Linked DNA regions of Homo sapiens. The protein of the gene in region 1 interacts with the protein of each later gene in a pairwise test. Each region holds a gene or a part of one and is shown on either strand. Other genes may lie near its edges. The genes, in order: SULT1C2 and HLTF.

Evidence for each region.
Region 2: the proteins of SULT1C2 (region 1) and HLTF interact in a two-hybrid assay, tested with the Homo sapiens proteins (one large-scale study listed by BioGRID and IntAct).

What each region holds. Positions count from the first base shown.
Region 1 is NC_000002.12:108,287,162-108,291,699, forward strand, and holds the start of SULT1C2 (sulfotransferase 1C2), read left to right. Parts: upstream 1-1,733; 5' UTR 1,734-1,909; intron 1,910-4,538. UniProt on the Homo sapiens protein: Sulfotransferase that utilizes 3'-phospho-5'-adenylyl sulfate (PAPS) to catalyze the sulfate conjugation of phenolic compounds. Does not transfer sulfate to steroids, dopamine, acetaminophen, or alpha-naphthol.
Region 2 is NC_000003.12:149,029,488-149,032,267, reverse strand, and holds the end of HLTF (helicase-like transcription factor), read left to right. Parts: coding exon 1-48; 3' UTR 49-2,141; downstream 2,142-2,780. UniProt on the Homo sapiens protein: Has both helicase and E3 ubiquitin ligase activities. Possesses intrinsic ATP-dependent nucleosome-remodeling activity; This activity may be required for transcriptional activation or repression of specific target promoters.

The DNA.
Region 1 (4,538 bases):
CTGGGCAAAAGAGTGAGACCCTGTCTTATAAAAAATAAGAATTAATGAATTTAGAAGGTCTTGAATTCCAAGTGGAAGCACCCAGAATTTGAGCCATAAACAACCAAAGGATAGCCTGATCTGAGCTGAGCTTAATTTATATGCTGAAAGTATGAGAGACTAGTAGGGAAGAGACCAGAAATAAGGAGACTGCTAGAAGATTGTGCAACATCCCAGTTCATCCTCCACAAATGTGGAGGAAGCAGATACTAGCAGTGGTTACTAACTGTAAATTCTGGGATTGTAGAGACTGTGACCCATGCAGACAGCAAAGGCAGGGAGATGCAGCATGCAGCGCAGCATGGCACCGATACTGGCAGACACTTTAGTAGACTTAGGGACTTTAACTGCAGAGAAAATGTGAGGTTGCACTAAGAACTGTGAATCAGCCCTATGGGGCTGAAAATTGACAGCACTGGGATAAGTGGAACTGGAAAGAGAGCAGAAGTAGAAAAATAAAGTTCAGCCGGGCGCAGTGGCTTATGCCTGTAATCCCAGCACTTTGGGAGGTCAAGGCGGGCAGATCACCTGGGAGCAGGAGTTGGAGACTAGCCTGGCCAACATGGTGAGACCCCGTCTCTACTAAAAATACCAAAAAAAAATTAGCTGGGCATGGTGGCGCACGCCTGTAGTCCCAGCTACTCAGGAGGCTGAGACAGGAGAATCGCTTGAACCCGGGAGGCGGAGGTTGCAGTGAGCCAAGATTGCACCATTGCACTCCAGCCTGGGCAACAGGAGTGAAACACCATCTCAAAAAAAAAAAAAAAAAGAAAAAAGAAAGAAAAAGAAAGTTCAATTTATTGGGAAAAAAAGAGCCCTTTGGAAACAAGGAGGAAGAAGAAGTGTCGGCAAAGAAGCATTAGGAGGTTCAGGGTCAAAGAAGACAAGGAAAGCTTTGGCAAGAAGGGCAGATGGGGTGCAGAATTATGCTTCAATTCCAGAAAGGAAAGCACTGGGGTAGATACAAGGTTGGGGCTGGCAGAAGAGTAGCAGTTCAGAGATCATTAACACTTGATCCATTTAATTTCCCAGGTAACCAAAGACACCATGGAATATAATCTGCCTCCACTAAAGTGTACCTTTTGTACAATAAGGCAAAGAAAAAATAAGTACACACCTAAGCTCTAGACTTTTGTTCTATCCTCTCTGCATTTTCGGTGTGGATGAATACAACTTGGGAAGAAAGGAAAGAAGAACCAGCAGTTTTAAGCACTTACTATTTGCTCTGCAAAGTGTATTCATCAACATTGTTGCTTTCAATCTTAAAGCATGGATTGGAGACAGGCAGTATTACCCACACTTCATAGATGCAGAAATTAAATCTCAGGCTAAGGAGGAAGGAAAAGGGAGTTCACCAAATAAGCAGGAGCCTACCTGAAGCCTGATGCATCTGGTCCTAGAGCCAACCTTCCATTTCCCCCCAGCCCCCACCTGTTTAAGCTTCGAGGCCAGTGGGAGGAGGGAGGGGCCAGGCAGCTGAGGGCCAGGAAAGATGTGAAAAACTCTAGCTGGTGACCGAGAGGAGGAGTAGAGTGTGCCCTTAGTTCATATGAACTAGAGGGAGTTGGTATTTGCACAGCAGTCAGGGTCACATGAGTGATCATGGTACAGTGAGAAGTTCTCCCTCCCAGGGCCAGGTCACAGGGTTTGTTTCTGTTCAATCCGGATTCTTCCAGTAAAAGCTTCAACTTCCCACACTGAAGCTGAGAGCCTCCCAAAGTGCTGGCTACCTGCTGAGCGCCCCCGTAACTCTGACACAGTAGTAATTTGAGCCTCTGCAATTGCCGTCTGCTTCCTGTGAAAGTCCTTTCCGTGCCCACTGACCCTTGAGTGGGCCTTTGAGCTGCTGACTTTCAGCTGGAACTTGAAGGTAAGAATATGGCTTAAAAGAAATTCTGTACCTAACTCGTTAATTTATTTTTTAACCTTTAGCCACATAGGTGTGGCTTTACAGATGCATTTATTCAAACCAGAAAAGATCCTAAGAATCTGATAAAATAATATAAAAGAGTTTTGTTAACAGCCTCCAGCCTAAAAATTCAGACCTAGAAATTCAGGACCCCCCTCAAATCACCTCCAAAAGCTCTCTCTCCTGTAATACTATCTCTGTCTCCCACCCTGATCTTTTCCCAAATACCCTCCCTGTCCCATCCTCCTCCAGGGCCAGCTCAACTTCTCTGGCCAAGACTATTTCTTCTTCCATGACAGCCCTCCTCTTATGCCAGCCATTGACTAAGACACATGCTGGGCCTGCAAGGGGACTGAACCAGATCCTGTGCTCCAAGGGTCCAGACTTATAAGCAAGTAATTGTAGGACGTGGAGTAAGACCTATAAAATTTGCACACAAAATACTATAGGATCCCATGGAAAGGAGTGATTACTTCTGTTTACAGAGTCAGGGATGCCTCCACAAAGGAGGCCATAGTGATCTGGCCTGATATGATGAAAATGTCCCTGCTGGCTGCTCAAGGGGAAATGTATGTGTCTACATGCCTGACTCTCCAAGGGCAGGAACCATGTGCTGATGTGGCCCAGCAATGAGGGGCCTGGGGAGGGTGAGAAGGACTTGGGACTTCTCCTGTGGGAACTGGCAGATCCCTCTGCTCCCACTGCACTACCCAGCTGCCTCAATCTCTTGCTGCATCTCCTTCTCCCAGCTTTAGCCAGGTTCTATCACTCCCCGTGCAGGCCTCCAACAAGAGCAATACAGTGGGATCCATAGTTCACTGGACAGCCAAGCCCTTAACCGCCCTGGTCCTCAGCAGCAGCAGGTGCCCTTCCACACATGTTCACAGCTGTGCCCAGGCCCTCGGTCATCAGCTACCTGCCCAGAGCACAACGCCTACCACAGAGTTGGTCAATGTGTTGCGTGGATTATTCTCAGGGCATTAGTTCAAGGCCAGAGCCCTAAGCTCACATGTACACCTGCCTACAGGTGTACATTGGGAAGTCCCATAAATACATCAGACTCAACCCCAGAATTGGACTCACCATCCCCTCACCCCCACCCTATGGAGGACCTTCTCACTGTGTCCTTACATGGTCTTTCCTCCATGTGCACACATCCCTGGTGTTGCCTTGTGTGTCCTAATCTCCTCTCATTACAAGGATACCAGATTGGAATAGGTCTCATCCTAGCAGCCTCATTTTAACTTAATCACCTATTTAAAGACATTATCTCCAAATACAGCCACATGCTAATATACTATGAATTAGGACTTCAACATATGAACTTAGAGAGACACAATTCAAACCACGATAATGTCCGTCTTAGTCCATTTTATGTTGCTATAACAAAATACCTGAGGCTGGGTAATTTATAAATATAAGAGGTTTATTTTGAATCATGATTCTGGTGGCTGAAAAGTCCAAGAGCATGGTGCTGGCATCTGCTCAGCTTCTCGTGAGGGCCATGCTGCATCAAGACATGGTGAAGAAATAGAAAGGCAAGCAGGCATGTATAAAGGGACCAAACTCACCCACTTCTGGGAGATGGCATTAATCTACTCATGTGGAATCCACCCTTATGGCCCAAACACCTCTCACAAGACCCCGTGTCCTAGCACTGCCACACTGGCAGTTAAACTTCAACAGAGAGTTTTGGTGGGGACTAACCACATCCAAACCACAGCAGTATCCAAAAAGTGTTTTGTAGTTTTATGTTTATATATATGTATACTTTTTGTTCATAACTATGTATAAACAGTTTTCTATCACTATCACTGCCATAACAAATTATCAAAAATTTAGCAGCTTAAGACAATACAAGTTTATTATCTCACACCTCTGTAAGTCAGAAGTCCAAACAGGTGTCTCTGGGTAAAATCAAGGTGTTGGCAGGGCTGCGTTCCCTTCTGGAGGGTCTGAAGAAGAATCCCTTCCAAGCTCATTCTGGTTGTTGGCAGAATTCAGATTCATGTGGCTGTAGGATGGAGGTCCCATTTGCTTGTTGGCTGAGGTTCATTCTCAGCTTCTGGAGGTCATGCCTTGTCTTGTGTTCCCCTTTGTCTCTAAGCCATCAATGGCAAGTTGAGTCATTCTCATGCTTCCAAACTCTCCAGCCACTTCTTCTGCCACACGACTCTCTGACTGCTCTTCTACACCCTTGTCCACTTTTAAGTGCCCTTGTGGTCACATTAGACCCACCGGGATAATACAGGACATGCTCATTGCCTTAAGGTTCTTAACCTAAATTCCATCTGCAAAGCCCTTTGCCACACAATGTAATGTATTAGGAATTAGGACGTGGACATCTTTAGGGCCATTATTCTGCCTACAACAATATACATTTGAAAAAGACAGATAGAAATACATCAAAATAATAACAACTCTTGTGTGATAGATGTTTTCCTTGTACATTTGGACTGTTTCCAAAGTTTCTGCAATGTATAACTTTAAATTCACAATAAAAAAAAACAAGAGGCAATTTTTAAAGAAGGAACATAGGATTCGTATACAGATGTTGGCTGCGATCCTGGGCAAGTTATTGATCGTGTGA
Region 2 (2,780 bases), on another chromosome or scaffold:
ATGAAACAAGCCAAAATTAATGAAATCAGAACATTAATTGACTTATAATTTGTGGGATTTTAGTAAGGTCAGTTTGATTGGATACTTAAGTTTTAGAAATGAGAAAAATACAGAGTTTTAGAAATGAGATCTAGAGAACACGTCTTCTAAAAGGGGCATATTTTATATTAGTGAAGAGGTATTACTGACACAATTTCTTCTATATATGAACCTATTTTTAATGAAACTTCAAATAGCAATAAGTTCCGTTATATACTGTGGCCTGAAATAATTTGAGAAAAAAGGTTACTTTGTTATTCAGCTTTTCATAATATCTATGCTGAGTATTTTCACGTATCTTCCAAGTACTCAGCTTTTTCGTATTTCAAATAAGGTCAGACCTTTTATACTTTTGACCAAATAGTTATTTTCTATGTTGGACACTTAGTTATTTACCAAAGCCTCCGATTTGTGATGCAGTGTTTGTAGTCCTTGTAAACAATATATACAGACTATACAAGAATTAATTTTATTGGGCTTTCAAAAACCATATTTGCATTCCAGAACCAAATCTTAAATGAGACCAAAGTCCAGGTTAGCACAGGTTTTTATTTTTCCTACAGCTACATTGAGATATAGTTCACATAAATGACTTGGAGTTTTATGTTCATGAAAAAATTAGGGATTATGTTAAGAGTACTATTTTTTCCATTTTAGTTAAGTAGTACTACACTCATTGTTTAAATGTAACTTGCTGTGTCTGAGGTATAAATATAGTCTGTGGGAGTGAGAGGCAAACCAGTCCTACCCAATTTGATTTGAATATTTTAAATTATGGAACTGCTAAATAGATATTTCTATAAATAGATAATTTTTATTTATGTAGCTTTTTTTGGAAGTAACTTTATAAATTTTTATAATTCAGAAGACTACTATATGTGAGAGGCGTGATATCTGGATGGAAGTTGGGCTGGATGATCTCCAAAGTCGTTTCAACTCTTAAAGACATCTTAATCCTGAATGTAAACAATTGTTATGTGTTTAGAATCAGAATTTGATTTTGAACTTGAGTAATTCATCCTTACAGCTATCTGTAGAATTAGTCATCTTTTTTCTTTTCTTTTTTTTTTACTTTTTTGTTAATAAGCAAACTTATTTGCTGCAGAATTTGGGTTGACTCCTGAGCATATTTAAAACAAAGAAGCTAGAAATTTAGCAGTCAGATTAGGTAGGTGGTTTTATTTCAAAGGGAAACTTTAATCCAAAGAAAGATTAATTACTCTAACAAACAAGAGAAGCTTCATGTTTGATGATACAGATTTAAGAATACCTGAGACTTAAGAGTGTTGGAAGTCATTTGATAGAAAGATGAGATCGGAGACAATGTTGTGTTATAGGGCACACATTGAAGGTATATGCCAAATCTCTCACCAGATAAGTCCTTTTCTCCCTGTGCCGTTTTCTTGCTCAAAGGGAACAGTGAATTAGCCAGCTAGAATCTTCCTGGTCCCTTTTTGAGGCAGTAGCAGGTAAGGAAAGGGCTGATTTTCATCAAAACCAAGACCTTTCTGCAGGGATGATAGTGGAATAATAATGTGGGATTAGCCCGCTAGCATTAGGAGCAGTTGGGAAGTTACCTGGTAGATCAAGCATTACACACAAAAAATCAAGTTGATCAGAGTATGGGTTCTCCATATAGCAATACTTCAGTGAGATTAAGTATAAACAGTTTTTGGCAAAAAACAACACAGTCTACTCTTTCTGCTTACAAAGACAAAGCCTTACAAACTCACTATGAAGGTAAAGGGAGGACAGCTTGCTTCTTTGCCCAGACATTTACAAAGTTGTTTTTAAAACACACTCATAAGTAAGTTTGGCAAGTTGTTTAAAAAATGTCTCTTTGTTTTGTACAGTTCTGTTAGATGTTGTTATATTTTAAAAGTTTAATTTAAAAAATTTAATTTGTCCTTCCTAAGAAGGATAAATATATAAAAAAGCCACTGGAATGAAAACTTCCTATATGCTATGCTGTTGTCTTATTATTATATAGAAAAATAACTTTAGAAAAATATTGAAGACATTGTATTACCACTTGTGATTCAAACAATTTTGTGGTTAAAACTGGATTTTAAATTTAAAAATCAATAAAAATTTCAAATGTTTATTACCTTCCTCGGTGCCATAATTTTGACTTTATCTTCAAATAAAATCCTTCATTAATTGTGACATTTCTATGCAAGTGTTACATTTTTTTGAGAGTACATGAAGATTACTGTAACAGAATAATGTCCTCATATCCTAACTAACTTTATTTTGCTCAATTTAGCTGGTTGAAATTCTTGTTCAGAAATCAAGAGTGCTTATTTAAAATGCCTTGATCTAAAAACATTGGTCCCAATTAATTTCTTCATCTGGAAGAAAAAAAGGAGTTGTGATAATACCTATATATACACAGATAGCACTCTTAATCAATCATTGTACATTTTGTCCTTAAAATTACAGCTCTAGAATTGGAAATACAAACTAACCCTATGTAGTTTGTTACCAGTGAGTACTAATGATCTTCGGCAGTGTGTGCTTTGTTTTGGGGAATGGCAAAGACATTGCTGTATTTTTTTCTTGTTTTATTTATACTACTTGTCAAGGTTTATGCATTAGCATTTGGATGAGATTCATTAAAAATATAAGGGCACATTTGATGTTTGGCTCTTAACAAAAACTCAAATGTTTAACCTCAAGTTTTTAACACATTAACTTCAAAATATCTGCAAAATGTGTTATACAGCAGGACAATATGGGTA